Homo sapiens: one gene and its partner. The protein of the gene in region 2 interacts with the protein of the main gene of each other region in a biochemical or structural test. Each region holds a gene or a part of one and is shown on either strand. Other genes may lie near its edges. The genes, in order: CASP3 and PANX1.

Region 1 (5,542 bases), on a different chromosome or scaffold from region 2:
GGTTTTCTTTTTTCTGTGAACTGTTTGTTCATGTCCTTGGCTCATTTTCCTATTGGGTTGCTGGTCTTTTCCTTTGTATCTGAAACCTCTTTACTTAACAGGGAGACTAGAATAAGCCAGATTTTCCTCAACACTATAGAACCACCGCTTTCATATGGCCTTAAAGAACTCATTTATGCTACTCTCTACTCCTCAGAAACAGAAGTCTCCTTTTCCTAGTTAGGACAATTTATTTTGTTTCTGATTTAAAAGTAATATATTTTCATTACAGAAATATTGGAAGAAATTTAAAACCACCCACAACCCCACTTTCCTATATTCCTTTTCTAAGCATATGAAGTAAAAAGACAGCAAATTCCTCTGTCAAAATCCCAGCGCCCAGAGGAGGCCATCAGTAAACATCAACGGCTTGTTGTATATCCTCTTAGGTTGTTCTTCCCATTAGACACTTATCTTGTGGAAAAAGTTTCAAATTCACACATATGGTCATATTTAAGGCCTGAGATCTATGCAAACAAAGTATCTTCCTGGCATTGTGGTCATTTCAGGGTCAGGAACTTCTGCGAGGACTTGGGAAGCATAAGCGATCTGTCTGCCCTGATCTAACTGCCACCACCTCAAAAAACTAGGCTAGGGTTCTGGTGCTTCCTCTTTGACTCTTCCAAATCAAGCTTCTGATTAAAAACATTTTAACTTCCAATTAGTGGCACAACATCAAAAACAACAGCAACAAAAAACTCAAAGACATTGGTAATTTTAAGTTTGAATGTATATTTTGAAATAAAAATGGAAAATAACAAATTTGTACAAAATTGTCACATAGAAACACACTTTAAGATACCATTACATGCTATGTGTATTTACAAAAGTTACAGGTCTAGTAAGAAAAAAGAAACTGTCATTGACAAATGCGAGCTCATTTTTTGAGCAACAAGAAATCTCCCGTGAAATGTCATACTGACAGCCAGTGAGACTTGGTGCAGTGACGGCTCCGCACCTGCTGAGGCCTGGAGCCTGCCTCCCGGGCTGAGGGCTCAGCTCTGGCCTCCGGCTGGATGCCGTCTAGAGTCCTATGTGCTCATAGGTCTTTTTCTTTCAGTAAACAGTATAAAACATTACTATTTTCCTTTGATTGTAAACTTCAACAGAAAATAACATACTTAAGAATTTTGCTACAAAGAGTACTATGATTTTTATTGCCTCACCACCTTTAGAACATTTCCACTTCACAAGTTTCTGATTTGCTTCACTTTCTTACTTGGCGATGGCGCCCTGGCAGCATCATCCACACATACCAGTGCGTATGGAGAAATGGGCTGTAGGCCCTTCCTGCGTGGTCCATGGCTCTGCCTTCATGGAACAGGCTGAGTCATGTCTCTGCTCAGGCTCAAACCATCTACTCTCAAGTTACAGGCAGCTCAGCCCATTCATTTATTGCTTTCCTTATATTCCACTGTTTATTATTTAAGTTGTATTTTCATATGTTCCTATAGAATTTATTCACATTACCTGGCTAATAATCAACAGTTTGGGGTTTTTATATAATAGCTCTTCAGATATATTGCTGGTATATGAAGCTCAACTGATATGCATAGGGACAAATCAGAAGATATTTATGCTGGTAGATCCAGGGGCATTGTAGCACCTTACAGTTAAAACTCCACCCCTCTATGAATGTTAAGTTTTAGCCTTAAAAGTCAAGTTAGTTTGCTCACACTTTCTCTCACATAAAATATTAGTTTCTTTCTCAATATTAAACATTATTATTATTTTTTTACAACAAAAGTGTTCAGGACAAACATCACAAAACCATAATCCCAGATAAATGGTCTAAAAATGCAGTTAAGTCATCCGTGTATATCAATTCTAAAATAAAGGTTTGAGCCTTTGACCATGCCCACAGATGCCTAAGTTCTTCCACATCATCATTTCTACAGTTTGACAAAACTAGAATACACAGTCTTAAGTGGGGGGAATATCATAAAAATTCATTACTTCAATGTTTAACTTTTTCACAATTACTTGAAAATTCATAGCACAGCATCACTGTAACTTGCTAATCATGAAAGCTGTAAATTAACAATCATTGCCTCTCATAATGACTGCACCAGTATCCATTTTTATTTATTCCTAATTTAATTCAATTGCAACTACCTGACTGGAAGTTTGAGGTAGCTTCATAGTGGTTCTATTTGATGGAAGGAGTATGTCTTAAAGTACCCTCTGCAGCATGAGAGTAGGTCAAAATGAGAGGGAAATACAGTACCAAATATACCATCTTCTCACTTGGCATACAAACTAAAAAAAACCACCAACCAACCATTTCTTTAGTGATAAAAATAGAGTTCTTTTGTGAGCATGGAAACAATACATGGAATCTGTTTCTTTGCATGAAAAGTAGCGTCAAAGGAAAAGGACTCAAATTCTGTTGCCACCTTTCGGTTAACCCGGGTAAGAATGTGCATAAATTCAAGCTTGTCGGCATACTGTTTCAGCATGGCACAAAGCGACTGGATGAACCAGGAGCCATCCTTTGAATTTCGCCAAGAATAATAACCTAAAAGGCAAAATACAAGCAAAATACCATGGATAGCTGATTTTAGTTGATTCTATAAATTATTATGTAGTCATAAAGGCAAAAATAAGCATAAACTTACATAAGTCTTATTAGTCATACAAATAAAAAAAAAAAGACACCTTTGGTTTCAGAAGAAATGATGCTGAAGGACGAATGTGTGCTATGCGTACACCCCCTGCTTTCAGCAAAGCTGGCCGGGGACCAGCTTCACGAACACTGAATTATTGAAAGTTTTACTTTCTGGACTCCCCTTTCAATAGGCAAGAAGAGCAAACACGCAGAAGGTAAGATGCAAAAGTAAAGATGTATAAAAAGGATCATTGTAAGTAGCACAGTGTTCCAATCAGATTTCACCTTATTTTAATACTGACTTAGCCAAGAAACAAATTGCTTTGAGTGTCCTACTTGTCTACAGAGCATCTGAATAAAGTATAATAAACACACTACCAAGTATTGGTCCAAAAAGGGAAAATAGTATATTTATCATACTTTTTTTTCTAGGTTAACTATTAGACCCATTGCTTTTAACTTAGAGGTACTTTGCTTGGAAAGATGCCTAGAGGATAAGATAAACCATATTGAGCATATTTTAAAATGCAACACTGCTTAAGAATACATTTACCTAAAGTTTCCAAACTCTCCGACACCCTTAGCTGTGTGAGTAAATGGTGGTATAATCCACAAATGTTTATTTAGATGATGACGTGTGCAGCAGAACAGTAAAAACGTGGAGGTTAACGGCACATTCATGTATCGTTTTTTACCTTCTTTTCTCCCACTCCACATCTATCCTCTTGTATACTAGTCATGTTTATCTTTTTTATTTACTACCTTTCAAATAACTCCTGAGAAACGTACCTCTCTTCTTCTCTAAGATGCAGGGGAAGCTCTGACTTGGCCTCTGTTGCCACGTAATATTCTACCTGATATTAGTAGCGGAGATCTACCTGATAAAGTCCAATGAATGACATCGTGCTAGTCTACTCTACATATGCATATTTTCTTTTCTTTTTTTCCTTTGAGACGGAGTCTCACTCTGTCGCCCAGGCTGAAGTGCAGTGGTGCGATCTTGGCTCACTGCAACCTTTGCTTCCCAGGTTCAAGCGATTCTCCTGCCTCAGCCTCCCCAGTAGCTGGGATTACAGGCGTGTGCCACCATGCCCAGCTAATTTTTCTGTATTTTTAGTAGAGATGAGGTTGGCCAGGCTGGTTTTGAACTCCTGACCTCAAGTGATCCACCTGCCTCGGCCTCCCAAAGCGCTAGGATTACAGGCGTGAGTCACTGTGCCTGGCTATATATGCATATTTTCTAGCCAAACTTTTGGCTAAAGACAACTTTTTGAGACTTCTCTTTGATGAAGGTTCCCTAAAATATAGACAAGTTTTGATATCTTTAGGGATATCAAAATCTTGACAGTCTCTGAAACACACTTTTCATTGTATAATTCTATGATCAGTCACAGTTAATTCATTTAAAATCCACATGTAACATTCATTATGTGTAACGTTCTCACCAGGTGCTGTGGAGTATGCATACAAGAAGTCGGCCTCCACTGGTATTTTATGACACGCCATGTCATCATCAACACCACTGTCTGTCTCAATGCCACAGTCCAGTTCTGTACCACGGCAGGCCTGGGTGTTAGAAAATAAATATTTATTTATAAAAATTTGTGTGTGAACACATAACTTAGTTCTAAAAAATTGAAATGCTATGTAAAAATGGATGTTAATTGGCCGGGCGCGGTGGCTCACGCCTTTAATCCCAGCAATTTGGGAGGCCAAGGCGGGCGGATGACTTGAGGTCAGGAGATCGAGACCATCCTGGCTAACATGGTGAAACCCTGTCTCTATTAAAAAAAAATTTAAAAATTAGCTGGGCCTGGTGGCAGGCGCCTGTAGTCCCAGCTACTCAGGAGGCTGAGGCAGGAGAATGGCGTGAACCCAGGAGGCAGAGCTTGCAGTGAGCGGAGATCGCGCCACTGTACTCCAGCCTGGGCGACAGAGCAAGACTCTGTCTAAAAAAAAAAAAAAAAAAAAAAAAAAGGATGTTAATTATGCTGAGTCTTTTTGATATAAGTATAAAATTAAAATTTACTCTATATCTTTTAAGTGGTAAATAAATGAAAAGTAACAATAGTTCATTAGCTTCAGGAAAAAAATTATCCTTTGGATAATTTACAGTTGAGAATAGTAACCCCTGCTTAATCGTCAATAACCAAATCACTCAGTTAGACATTACCTGAATAATGAAAAGTTTGGGTTTTCCAGTTAGACTTCTACAACGATCCCCTCTGAAAAAGTTTGTTATTTTTTTCAGGTCAACAGGTCCATTTGTTCCAAAAATTATTCCTTCTTCACCATGGCTCAGAAGCACACAAACAAAACTGCTCCTTTTGCTGTGATCTTCTTTAGAAACTGTAAAGACATTTGCAAATAAAAGGAAAAAAAATCCATGACTTTATTCAACAACTTCAGATATACTGTATGGGAACATGATGAAGAAACTGAGACTAAAACTAAGAGGTCATCTTAACCTAACCTGGGGCACGGCAACACATCTCAAACCATTTTAGGAAGTTGGCATAAATAACTTTTTTTAAACTTCTTACTAAAGTATGTAAGATTAGGGTTATGTACAGTATAATTCCACAATTCTCATATTTTATTATACATATAATTATTGCTAGACCATAGTATAAAATTAATTGTACAATGAAGTTCATTCTAATTGTTTCTTCTTACCATCACGCATCAATTCCACAATTTCTTCACGTGTAAGATCATTTTTATTCCTGACTTCATATTTCAAGTTTCTGAATGTTTCCCTGAGGTTTGCTGCATCGACATCTGTACCAGACCGAGATGTCATTCCTTGGAACAGAAAGAATTACTTTTAATTGTATGGAAAACAAAGAATAACTACTTTGAAATGAAATTAACTACTCAGCAATTCAGAAGTCC
Region 2 (7,290 bases):
AGTTTTGATGACTTAAAATAACTTCTGCTTATCAAAACTTATACTGTAAAGGTTACTGAGGGATGGCTGTCAGGGGAAATGGGGATGGTTAATGGGCATAAAAATAGAATGAATAAGATCCAGTATTTGATGGCACAATAGAGTGACTGTAGTCAATAATAATTTAATTTTACATTTTAAGATAACTGAAAGAGTACAACTGGATTGTTTGTAACGAAGGATAAATACTTGAGGAGATGGATACCCAATTTCTCCTGATGTGATTATTACACATTGTATGCCTGTGTCAAAATATCTCACATACCCCATGAATATATACCTTTACATACCAACAAAAATTAAAAATTAAAAAACAAAAATGCTTAACATAAACAGAATTCAAAGGAAACGGACAACCGGAAAAGAAAATACAATAAAGGCTAGCTAGAAAATATTTGAAACATAGAAATAGTTAATAAAACCCATTGAGAAACCAACATCCCCTTGGAAAAATAAGCAAAAGATAAGAACAGACAATTCACAGAATTATATAAATGGAAAAAATACATACGAAAAAACATTCAATGCCGTAACTGAATAAATGCGACTTAAAACAATGGCACACCTTTGTTCACCTATTAAGCTGTGGACGATAATCCACTAACTTTTGCCAGCTGTGGGGAAAGCCACTCCTTCAGCTGCGGGGAGAAGTATCCATTGGGGGTCTATCCAGAGGGCAACCCAACCACACCAGTCAAATCTTAAAAATGTCTATGTATACTTTGACCTTGTAATTAGAATTATACAATCACTTGAAATACTGAGATCTTTAGAGAGGTGGTTTATTATGTACAGGAGTGTTCTTCACAATGCTATTTATATTACAAAACTTGTGAAACAGTTAAATTTTGACACGTGCACAACATTCCATGTCACTGCCAACAAAAAAAATCATGTACAACAATTTAGGAACATGGTAACATGGCCTTGACTTAGTGTTTGGTTTTTCAAGAATAGTAGTTATCCCTGGTAGTATTATAGATGTACTGCTATTTTCTCTTCTGTATTTTCCATATTTTCTACAGTAAGTTTTATCTTTATAATGATATAATATACATATATAAATATTTATATTTTAAAAAGGAGTGTGAGCTTTATAGAGAATTTATTAAAAAACAACAGCGTCCCCTCCCCACCACCCCTTTCACCCCCCACAGAACTAGGTGTGCCTGGTACCAAGCAGATGGTAGATTCTCTTTAGGCCCCCTTCTCCCCAAGTAACTAATGTCTCCCTGCTGCCCCCAGAAACCCCACAGCATGCAGCGGGGCCTGCCTCGCCCAGAGTTCCTAGCTTAGCCAGGGCAAATGCCCCCAAATTGCCTCCCTTTCTCCACTTTGGACCAAGCTCTCGCTGCCTCAGTTAGGGGTTTGACAAGGAAGCAATCCAAGAAAGCAACCAGCTGCAGAAAAAAGGTGTTTGCATGGTTTTTTAAAGGGATGTTGCTAATCCAAACCTAGAGTCCATGAAGGTCCTAAGGCCTATTTTCAGGTTTTATCTATCTGTCTATATATTTTGAGAAGGAGTCTCGCTCTGTCGCCAGGCTGGAGTACAGTGGCATGATCTCAGCTCACTGCAACCTCTGCCTCCCGCGTTCAAGCGATTCTCCTGTCTCAGCCTCCCAAGTAGCTGGGACTACAGGCATGCGCCACCACACCCAGCTAATTTTTGTATTTTAAGTAGAGACGGAGTTTCATCACGTTGGCCAGGATGGTCTCGATCTCTTGACCTCATGATCCGCTCGCCTTGGCCTCCCAAAGTGCTGGGATTACAGGTGTGAGCCACTAGAAATGTGTAGCACCTCCCCCCATTCTCTCTTGCTCCTGCTCCTGCCATATAAGACGTGCCTGCTCCCTGTTTGCCTTCCGCCATGACTGTGTTTCCCGAGGCCTCCCCAGAAGCCAAGCAGAAGCCACTAGGTTTCCTGTACAGCCCACAAAACCATGAGCCACATAAACTTTTCTTTAAAAATAACCCAGTCTCTGGTATTTCTTCATAGCAATGTGAGAGCTGCCTAATACTTCTATGTATCAAGTTTTTTTCTTTTTTTTTGAGACGGAGTCTCGCTCTGTCGCCCAGGCTGGAGTGCAGTGGCGCGATCTCGGCTCACTGCAAGCTCCGCCTCCCGGGTTCACGCCATTCTCCTGCCTCAGCCTCCTGAGTAGCTGGGACTACAGGCGCCCGCCACCACACCTGGCTAATTTTTTGTATTTTTAGTAGAGACAGGGTTTCACCGTGGTCTCGATCTCCTGACCTCGTGATCCGCCCACGTCGGCCTCCCAAAGTGCTGGGATTACAAGCATGAGTCACCGCGCCCGGCCGATATGTATCAAGTTTTAAGGACACATGGTCCCTGCCCTAAATGAACTTACAGTATTCAACAGATAAGTATGCAAGTAATTACCTAACTTCAAGTTATGGTAAATGTTAGGAAGGAAACTTACAGTGTTAGGAGAACATGTATCATGAAGTTCTACTTAAAGTTGCAATTCTACCCCCTGAAGGAGGCCCTTTCTTTCTTAAAACCAAGAGCACATCAAAATGCTTCTTCCAAACTTCTAATGCAGTCACATTTTGAGGGAGTCAGAGCTGGATAGTGTACAGGGCAGTGGTTTTTTTTTTTCTTCCACTTATTTCAAATAGGAACGCAGGAATGCAAAACTATTCGGAAAATGATGTCATCCTTCTGGAAACTGATACTGCTGCGACTAGTCTCCTTTCCTTTTAATGCTGGGAGGAGAGAAATATTTACGAAGATTTTCATGCAAACAAGCTTTATGTGTGAGTAGAAATTTTGAAAGAAAGTAAATGTCCATCATTAGGGGACTGCTTAGATGAATTGTAAGTATATTCTAAGCTATGGAATACTGTTCTATTATAAAACAGTGAGGTGACACCTATGTACTGGCACGGAAAGCTCTCCAAACATACTAAGTGAGAAAAAGCAAGCCACTATGGTATGACTCGATTTGTTTTAAAAAATAAAATAAGGTGTACACGTTATGCTAATGCAGACAAAGTACAGCAATAAGGCTGCACAAAGTGTCCACCTACCTTCAGCACATAGTGAAAGAGATTTATGAATCCTTTACCATGATGATGTATTTAGCTACTACTTGTACAAGAAAAATATTAACAAAGTAAAACATGTATCCAACAGTAGACTCTCTGGACAGCATGCATCCTTCTGGAGGGGTTAGGAGTCTCTCTTGGCTCTTTGGTTTAGTGTGAGTTGAAGATGTTCTATTATAGGACCTATGCCATGAGACCCTAAATATTGGCCCACTCTGATAGACAACCCTGAAAAGAATCGATCTGCTTTGCCAGCTGGTACATGCTAAAAAGCAGCCTGAAGATATTCCCAAAGACAGGTCTAAATTCAGCCACAACAGAGCAGATAACTTAAGCCACCCAGCCGCTGACTCAGTTGCAGGAAATGAAAGGGGAACTCCAAGCAAACTATATTGGAAGCAGCTGCAGTTATATCTATCCTTTGACTCACTGGGGCTGGCCCAATGCCTGCCCTGTAATGATAGCAAAAGAGCAGTGCTAACTCAGAAAGACTAAGTCCTTCTCTACCCAGAACGGTGGCTGCCCACTAAGAGGTCAGTGGGTGAGGGAGGCAGGGTCCCCGGCTGACCAGACACCCTTTCCCTAGTAGACTACTGGCTGCCCCAGCTCCCCACCTGGTCCAGCCAGCCAGAAACATCCTGGCAGGAGACACGGGCTCTCCTTCCCAGGGGATATGTGCCACATGAGGCACCAGGGAATCAAAGCAGCCCCTGACGCCTCAGGCCTTGTACAGCCCTAAGCGCAGGGCACAGGAGGCCCTGTCAAAAGACCCCTTAAACATGAATCCCATTCAGAGTCTGGTCTGTTGATAGTTTTGTCTTCAACCAGGCTGCTGTAAGAAAATCCCACAGACTGGGTGGCTTAAACAACAGTTATTTTCTCACAGCCTGGGAAGTTCAAGATCAAGGTACCAGCAGATTCGGTGTCTGGTGAGAGCTCTTTTCCTAGTTTGCAGATGGCCCCCTTCTCCCAGCGTGCTCACACACCTTTCCTTGTGGCCGCACTTGTGGAGAGAGGAAGAGGGAAGAAGAGAGGAAGGGGGGTAGTGGGAGAGAGAGGGAAAGAGGGAGAGAAGGAGGAAGAGGGAGGGGGGAGAGGAAGAGGGAGGGGGGAGAGAAAGAGGGATTTCTTCTTTTTCTAAGGGCATCCCATCATGAAGGTCCCACTCTCATAATCTCATCCAAACCTAATTACCTCCCAAAGGGATCTCCAATTAGCATCACATTGGGGATCAGGACTTCGACATATGAATTTTGCGGTTGGGAGACACAAACATTCAGTCCATAACTGCAGCACACTAAGGGAATTCATAACTTTAGAGAAATACTTCTAGAATTTCAGAGCTTGAAGGTCACGTCATGCAATCATGCTTATATTCTACACAAAGCTGTCGCCCAGCCATTTCCTAAACCTCTCCCCCCATCAATGAAATGTGCAGCACTTCTAGAGGCATCTGAGAGTAGATGTGTTAGAAATGAAGGGCCTCAAGGCACTGTCTCCCAGCAGCTTGCACAAGGTGACACCCATAGGGTACCCAAGCCACACAGATCACACTCATCCTTCTTCCACAGTACACCATTCTGCACTCTGAACACAGATTCTTCCTCATCACAAAAATAACATAAAAAAGAATCTGAGGCACACGCAATATAACCTGAGCTTATAAATCAAGTGGGACAACTTACCTATCATGACGATGTGCATCCTTTACTGCTATCATCAGAGGCAGGTGTCTGGGAGGTGGCCAGGACAGGCCTGACCCAGGACAGCACTTGTATCATTAAATGGCACTCAGAGGGCGCACTTCCAAGCAACTGGGACCCTTATCCAGAACACTCCGTCCATTCCCTCAGCACAGCCACTCTGGGAGAGTTCCCTAGTGTGCTCTGGCACTTCCTTCACTAAATTCCTATGGAGCACTTGTTGAGGGCAAGACATGGTAGAAGACAAGAGGAAGGAAAAATGAGGGCTGGTGAAACCACTGATTCTCCCTTCTCTGGCTCCCACCACACAGCCTTTCTAGCCCAAACTCACAATTAAACTGTCTTTTGCTGTGTGTCACTTATTTTCCCCCTACCCAGCTGAATCTCAGAGGAGGCACACCTGCAGTATTTTAGAAAGGCTGACTAGAAGTATCAGGCCTAACCAGACAGGTGCACATTTTAGTTCTTACATTCAATCCTTAGTATCTCACTGTCCAAAAGCCTTCAAAATGCTCCCAGGCACAACTCAGAAGAGTCTCCTTGCCACTCCCTCAGGAGGGTTTCTGCTTGTAATTCTCACTATCACAGGGCACATCTGGACCAATGAGTGGCTGCCGCAAAGACTACCAAAGTTGCCTCCACCTTGACCATGGCACCAGCCTTGCCATGCCCCTCCAGACCACATCACTTCTGCAGTGACCCTCAACCTGTGATTGTGGGCAGCCAGACCAAGATCTGGTGAATGAGCAAGGCAGAGTCCCTTCTGCTCTCTGTCCCCAACACAGTCCCCACCAGCCCAGGTAGCCCCACACCAGTGCCTACCATGCAGGACCTGCGTGAACTGCTGTGGGAGGGAAGGGGCCAGAACCTCTGAGGAGTGGACGCTTCACCTGCAGCCACCATGCTGGCACCCAGCAGGGCTTGATAAAGATCAGCCTGCTGCTATGCCCATGGGTCTCTGTGGCCCAGGCAGGCTCAGTCCCTCTTTTCTGAGAGGAGCCCAGTGGGCTGAACTACTAAGAGAAAAGGCCAAAGACCAAACGGAAGCCTTTAATATGAAGCCAAGTATTTTATCATATGAGGACATTCCCTCTCTCTAACCTACAACACTCCCACCCCCACAGAGAACCTGCTCTTAAATCTAAAGCACAATCCATGCACATTTCTTGATTTAATAGATTTTCTTTAAAGTAAAAAATCATTTATTTAAAGGAAAAATCGCCACAAAGTTTCAACTTGAACCCTATTTTATCAAACAACAGTTGACAGAAAATTTAATTTTTGGAAAGTAACTGGAAAATATAATTTATTTTACGCTTGAGGGGATTTTATATCAAAAGAGATGAATTCTTATATATACTAGTTTATCATACAGGTGGAAAAAGGAAAAACATGTAATTACAGCTGATTTTCTCGTTTCTAATTTTATACACACACACACCACCCCCCCAACACAAACAGGAAAACAATGGGATTTGCTATGCCTTCTTTCATGTGGAGCCCCTGGACCCTTACTTTGGCTCCCACCTCTCCATGTGACGGTGCCACTAAAGCTCCAGCAGCCACATGTTGTCTCACACGTCTCAGCTTCAGCCAACACTGCTCCACACACTTGGAATCCTGCCTCAGGGGCCAACTCTGCCCTGAAACTCTCACTGTTCATGAGTCAGAAGAAACCCCTCCTTCTGCCTTTCCACAGCATCAGGCTTTAGTACACACTTCTGACACTGCCCAGGTTCCATGAATCCTGCATTAGGAGGGTTATGCGTTCAACTTCTCTACTAGACCGTGCTTCCAGAGGAAAGATTCTTATGTCCTACGTGTGTCTGACACCCCATTGCCAAGGTACAGCATCATGCACATAACAATCAATTAGCAAGGTCTGATGATGCCAAAAGCTATCACCTTTAATTCACAACAAATGTTTATAGAGTAGTTTCAATCTCCATGCAAAACATGCATAGACAGGTTATAAAGCTCTGTGTTAAGTTCAACAAAAGAGTATTCCAAGCACCAGAGAGGGAAGCAGTAATTATCAACAGAGGAAGGATGAAGCCATGTTTTAAGTCTGCAGGCCTTATCTCAGTGTCTTCCCGGGGCCTGAGTTCACTGGCCAATATGGTGGGCAAAGTGCCAGCTCCATTTCAATTACTTCATTCTCCCTTTATTGCTGTTCTTTTTTTTGGTTTGTTTTTGGCTGAGTGCATACTACTAACTACACAAAATTAAATGCTGCATGACATGATCCCTCCCACTGTACCAACTCCATGTATTAATCTATGTACCTCTCCCCTCTTCTCAAAAGCCCTTCTTCTGGTTTTATCTAAATGTATACCTAATCTAATAGGTCTTCCCTGGTCCTGTTAGCTTCATCCCACATGTCTGTCCTCCCCTGGAACTCCTGAAAACACTTCAGAAAACATGGGAGTCTGCTTGACAGCTCCTCACCCAAGTGCCTGCCAACCTTCACCAGCCTGG

Evidence for each region.
Region 1: of the proteins of PANX1 (region 2) and CASP3, one has a biochemical effect on the other in vitro, tested with the Homo sapiens proteins (2 studies listed by IntAct).

The regions. Positions count from the first base shown.
Region 1 is NC_000004.12:184,626,945-184,632,486, forward strand, and holds the end of CASP3 (caspase-3 isoform a preproprotein), read right to left. Parts: intron 5,453-5,542; coding exon 5,324-5,452; intron 4,997-5,323; coding exon 4,821-4,996; intron 4,214-4,820; coding exon 4,093-4,213; intron 2,558-4,092; coding exon 2,328-2,557; 3' UTR 752-2,327; downstream 1-751. UniProt on the Homo sapiens protein: Thiol protease that acts as a major effector caspase involved in the execution phase of apoptosis. Following cleavage and activation by initiator caspases (CASP8, CASP9 and/or CASP10), mediates execution of apoptosis by catalyzing cleavage of many proteins.
Region 2 is NC_000011.10:94,131,567-94,138,856, reverse strand, and holds part of PANX1 (pannexin-1), read right to left. Parts: intron 1-7,290. UniProt on the Homo sapiens protein: Ion channel involved in a variety of physiological functions such as blood pressure regulation, apoptotic cell clearance and oogenesis.